Regions from separate parts of the Homo sapiens genome. Here region 2 is linked to region 1. The links come from fine-mapping of genetic effects on gene expression. A gene starts in region 1. The other region holds a variant in brackets. All regions are shown on one strand. Distances are between the middles of the regions. Region 1 holds the start of CLASP1 (cytoplasmic linker associated protein 1). Region 2 overlaps CLASP1 (cytoplasmic linker associated protein 1).

Region 1 (3,032 bases):
AGTCTCCTCTAAGGAGTCCTGACTTTGGTTAACCTTACCTGGGAGAATTAAAAGCTATGGCTGAAAACTCCTTCATAAAAACTAAAACTTTAGAAGTCTAAAATGGTGTTACAAGGTAGCCCATAATAAACAATGAATTATAGAAACTGAGATTTCAGTAACAACTGCTAAAAAGGTGTATTACACAATTTAACAAGATAACCAGATCATCAAAATTTAAATTTCTTAACAAATGTAAAAAATAAATAATATTCAATACTCTGAGGCACTGTGCTACTTTTTATCTATATGGTCGCAACATCAATGTTGCTATTCTCCCAATCCCTTGATGAGCAAACGGAGCCAATATCCAGGATCCCTCATATCGAGAGGTCAGTTACCGTCGTAAATAATCGTAGTAATAAAAACAATTTCTAATGCCAGAATTGAAAACGGACTGTGGCACCCAAATAGGGTCCAAGGTACATGGCGGCATGAAACTATTTCTCGCTTCTGACTCTTCTGCATCACGGTCTCCCAAAGGACTAGAGAATCTGAAGCTCTCATTGCCACATCTACAAATGAAAGTATCATGTTTAAAGAGCTCACAGGTTCTACGAATGGTCAGTATTTAATGAACGCACCCCACTACACAGAAACTCACCCAGCTGCAAACTCAGCTGCAAACTCACCACAGCGTGCTTTCAGACTCCACATTAATTTTTTTTAATTTTAGAAGCAAACAACTATTTTAAAAATATTATGTAATAATTTAAACTCTGGAAAGCCCCATACTCATCCCAGCAGCTCGGAAAACGGAAAGCAAAATTCGATTAGCTCCATTGTACCTAGCCAGGCTAACGTGCAAGATCACACACTCATCTTCGTCAGAGCGTCTCTGCCAATACCAAAGAACAACAAAGGCAAGTTGAGAAGTCTGCACAGGCTTAACTCAGCACTTGTTCGCTTTCCCAGCTTCAGAAAGAAGCTCTTCGAAGGCCCCGGGAACCAAGGGGACCTTGTGCATCCCATCAAGCCGGCCGCTCCGCTCGGCGCCGCTCGCGCAGCTTTTGTCTGGCCCGGTTGGGAGCCCAGGACGGGAGCCCGGGCCGCCCGCCTCCCGGCACCCCTTCTCTCTGGATCTTTCTTCACACCCATCACTCGCCAATGACTAGTTGTTGTGGGTTTCTCTCCCTCGCCCCCTCCCTTCCTTTCAAACGCGCCCCGGGCTCGCTGGCTTCTCCCACCCGGCAGGGGAGACTCGGGTTAGGAAGGGGGCCCGGGTGGGGTCTGGAAAAGGGAAACAGAGAGGGGCACACAAAGCCCGACTGACCCCAGGGCCGATCCCCTCCCTCTGCAAAGCAGCCTGGGCTCAGCGACCTACTGGTTGGATAAACAACCCTCGCATCCCGCTCCTCGCCAGGCTCCCACCTCAGGGCCGCCCCATCCCCCCAAAGTGCACCCAAGAGCCGATGACAGCGCTGGACATCGCCCCCACCCAGACCCGGCGCCCGCCACTGCGCGGGAGGGGCCAGGGCCGCGAGAGGGCTCGGGTCTGACCCTCCGCCCCCTGACCGGGTACTTACAGCCCTGTTTTTCGTTACTGTTGCCGCTGCGGACCAGAGAGCCGCCGCCTTCTCCTCCACCCCAATGAGGTTAAGCGCTTGGTGCGGGGATTAAAAAAAAAAAAAAAGAAAAAAAAAAAAAAGACCGAGAGAGCGAGAGAGACGCCGAGGGCGCCTGCGCAGTGCGGTCACCCTTTTTCTTCTTACCGCCACCAACCCGGGTACACCATAGAGAGCGTAAACCGAGACCAGAGAGGCGGCTGCCTCTCTATGGTAACGCCCCGCGCAGGCGCTGGCCTGGCCGTGTTAGGCTTCGCTGGCGTAAAGTCCCCGGGAGCTTTGCCCCTCACGGAGAACGTTAGTTGACCCTGATGGGGACCCGTAGGGTAAAGGTTTTGTTTTTGTTTTTTTTTACGGAAAAGGTTGTGGTTAGGCCCCTTGGAAAGTTGCGACAAAACTCGAGTTAGACAAGGAAGGTCGGAACTAAGTGGCCACAGCAACAATGCACCAGCAAGCAGGGAGCGTGATAGGAAGAGCTAAAGAGGAATCGGGAAACCCTGGGTAAAAGTCGTCCAAGTGGAACTTCCTTTGGTCGGGGGTCTGATACTCGAAGGAAACGGTCTTTCACTTCTGGGTTAGGGCGTCCGCCCAGAGGGCGACTGCAATGAAGGAAATTGTGCCCTGCGACTTCCCGTAACAGAGCTGTGTGTCCACGCTCCCTTTTCCGAGCAGGCGCGGACGCTTGTGCCGGAAGTAAACTTGTTAACGGTTCTTTGCCTTTTGGGGAGGGGAGACAGCCCAGAGAAGGCTTTGGAGACCCTTGAGTCGGCCAGCGAGCAGGGTTTCTTACTTGAGCGCCTCCACAAATAAACGCTCCTTCGCTCCTCCGTCGCGTGCGTTTCCCTGGGATAATAAGTGGGAAAGTGGTGGCTTTTATTTTTTTGAGACAGGGTCTCACCGCCGTCGCCCAGGCCGGATGGAGTGCAGTGGCGCGATCACGGCTCACTGCAGCCTCGACTTCCCAGGCTCAGGTGATCCTCCTGCCTTAGCCTCCCGAGTAGCTGGAATTACAGGCGTGCACCACCCCCCCCCAACTACTTTTTGTATTTTTTTGTAGAGATGGGTTTCACCATGTTTCCCAGCCTTGTCTCAAACTCCTGACCTCAAGTGATCCGCCGTCTTGGGTCTTCGAAAGTGCTGGGACAGCAGGAGTGAGCCACCGCATCTGGCCCGGAAAGTGTTTTGGAGCGTAGAAAAATGCAAATTATAGGGCTGCCTTCAAGGATCCCGAAGGACCCACAGATTTGCCGCATCAGGCTCCTATGCACGCCGGTAATTTGATGTGTTGAGATGCACTGCCCAGTGCGTTGTTTTTACTGGAGGAGCTTGTGTGCGGAGCTCCTTGCTAGTGTATGTGTTGGGATGGGAGAGAAGTGCGGGAGAACTATGAGATAATGCCCCCTGATCCTCAGGGTCTTAGGAGGTATG
Region 2 (2,500 bases), 230 kb before region 1:
AGGTTTAAGTGCTTCTCCTTCCTCAGCCTCCTAAGTAGCTGGGATTACAGGCACGCACCACCACATCCAGCTAAGTTTTGTATCTTTAATAGAGATGGGGTTTTGCCATGGTGGTCAGGCTGGTCTCCAACTCCTGACCTCAAGGGATTCATCCACCTCGGCCTCCCGAAGTGCTGGGATTACAGGCGTGAGCCACTGCACCCGGCCTAAAATAAGTATATAAATGACTTTTTATAAATGAATTAATTAGGTGATCAAAACTAAAAGAAGAAAATCCCACCAAAATAGTCTTGTCTCTTTAAGTGCCAAACTAAATGTTCTATGTGAAAATATGTTACAGAAGAGAAGGCATAAGAGGGAGAGACCAGGAAAACATACTTGTACTGTGAACTTCCTAAAAAAGCAGTATTCCTAGGTACCTCTGGGGTCTTCTGCTTACATGAAATGCTGGGAAGCCGTAAGATACCCATTTGATTGGTTTACATTTCTTGATAGACACTCTACCCTACTTCAGTGTTTTAATGGTAATCTTGACTTTTACATCTTAAGGAAGGGTCCAACCAGGACTCATAAAAGCAGAATATAAGAGAATTAATAAAAACAACCAGAAGTTAAAGACATGAAATGTCTCTCTGGTCTAGACATTTTCATGTCTTGGTCTTAGACAGTAGTCTAATTTCACAGTTGAAATGAACTATTATTAATGTTTAATTATTTCAAAGTATTTTAACCAGAAAACCTTAACATTTAAAATACACATCCACAGAATGAAAGCTGCAAAAATGTCAAATGTGTTTTCATAGCCTTTCCATAGAGGAGTGGGAGAAGGGAACAAGGGCAAACTTCCAAAATATAATCACTATAGATACTAGTGATTTATGTGACTTTATTGTATCTATAAAGTATTATCTTTAAGACACACAGAAATAAAACAACTTAAAAATACATTTTCCTAGTCAGATAGCTTATGAGGGAACAAATCACCAAGAAAAAAGAGTATCAGGGATATATTTTGCTTCTTGAATATTTAATAGGAATTACAGGCTGTTCTGCTTAAGAAAATCTAAATGCCAAAGAAGAGCCTTGGCATCAGTTTTAAAACAAATGAAAAAAGAAAATTTTGTTAAGAAGTATCATTTCAAACAAAAAGAGGCATAG[T/C]TGAACCAAACACGATTTGTAGATAACTACGATTAATTCTCAGTGCAAATTCCAAACCTAGTTTAGCTATCATTAAAACTGTTGAATTTGTTGGTTTGGGAATTATAGAAAATATTCCTAAAAGATGTTCCTCCTCTTTTTTTCAACAATTATATTGAAAACTGCTATACAATGAGTCAAATGTTAAGAAACACAGGCATATATCCAGTATATACTAAATGATAATAGTAATATATAATCTATTACTGAATAATGCTATTATGTCTGCCACCCTATTAAATGCAATCTCTAAGCAATACCACAGGAAAAAAATGAAAATACATTTTATTCATATAGATTTCTTTATATGCATATATTCTCGCAATGTGTGGAAATTTAAAGAAAATATCTTCTTTAATATAAACTATATGTATGACCTCAAAGCTCTACACGTAACTGATCCCTTTAATTAGCATCAAGGAAATAACTTTCTTCAAATAATATTTCAAATAACTCTTTGGAAGGGAACAGGCTTAAGTTCCTACTGATGCTCCATAATAACTGTTTTAAAAACATATAAAATATTGTCTTTTCAACTACACACAACACAAACTTCCTAGTTAAAACCATGGAACACATTAGAATTATGTTAGATAAATGAAGTTGGGTTATTTCCCAATTTCAAGAAGAAGATTAAAATGGCATCTTTAATAATATAAAAGGAAAAAAAATCTCAAAACAGAAAAGAATCTTTAAATGTATAAAACTAACATGGATTGCAAACAGACATCCTATAAACTTAAACAATTAACTATGGAAAAAGACAGCTAAAACATAACACCTAGATTTAAAATCAAATGCATTTTCCAAACACAAATATGTTACAGCATCAGACATAAAATTCAGATATTCCAGCTGTGACCTTTTCTATGATTGTATCCACATCAACACCCAAATAACTTGTCAGCTAAGAGACCACACTACGCAATGCCAATAAAAAGTTGGCATCATAGAGATTTACTAAAACCAAGAAATACTTTCTACTTGCTTTGGAAATAGGATTTCAAATCAAATCTTATCCATTCTTAAATATCTTCTCCTGCCTTCTCGTAGCTAAGGTGGGCTTCAAAGACTTTCATGAGCTGGACTCTACCAGTCTCTGCCCCCAACTCCCACCCACTCTGACTTCCTTTACAGCAGCCAAATGAATTACATGTGGCTGCCTCTTGCCTGACTGCTTCTGCAGATGCTTCTCTCTCCTCTAGAAACCTTTCCCCTCATCTCCCCACCCGGACCAATCCCATTTTGTACTTCATGAAAACAGAATCTACTCTGGGCAGCCTCCCCTAGCAAGAAATCTGGG

Evidence for each region. PIP is the estimated chance that this variant, and not a neighbour inherited with it, causes the effect.
Region 2: its variant is fine-mapped to the expression of CLASP1 in whole blood (TOPMed, PIP above 0.99).

The regions. Positions count from the first base shown.
Region 1 is chr2:121,647,807-121,650,838 of GRCh38, forward strand. It overlaps CLASP1 (cytoplasmic linker associated protein 1), which reads right to left and starts at 1,656. Exons shown (of 41, transcript NM_001395891.1): 1 at 1,566-1,656. NIFK-AS1 (NIFK antisense RNA 1) reads left to right here and starts at 1,848. Exons shown (of 4, transcript NR_037857.1): 1 at 1,848-2,575; 2 at 2,662-2,876. RefSeq lists enhancers at 610-1,238, 1,239-1,865, 1,897-2,166.
Region 2 is chr2:121,421,636-121,424,135 of GRCh38, forward strand. All of the region lies in intron 22 of CLASP1 (cytoplasmic linker associated protein 1), which reads right to left. Among named protein-coding and RNA genes, the nearest start is that of CLASP1-AS1, 110 kb to the right of the region's middle. The variant T/C (reference allele first, on the strand shown) is at 1,159.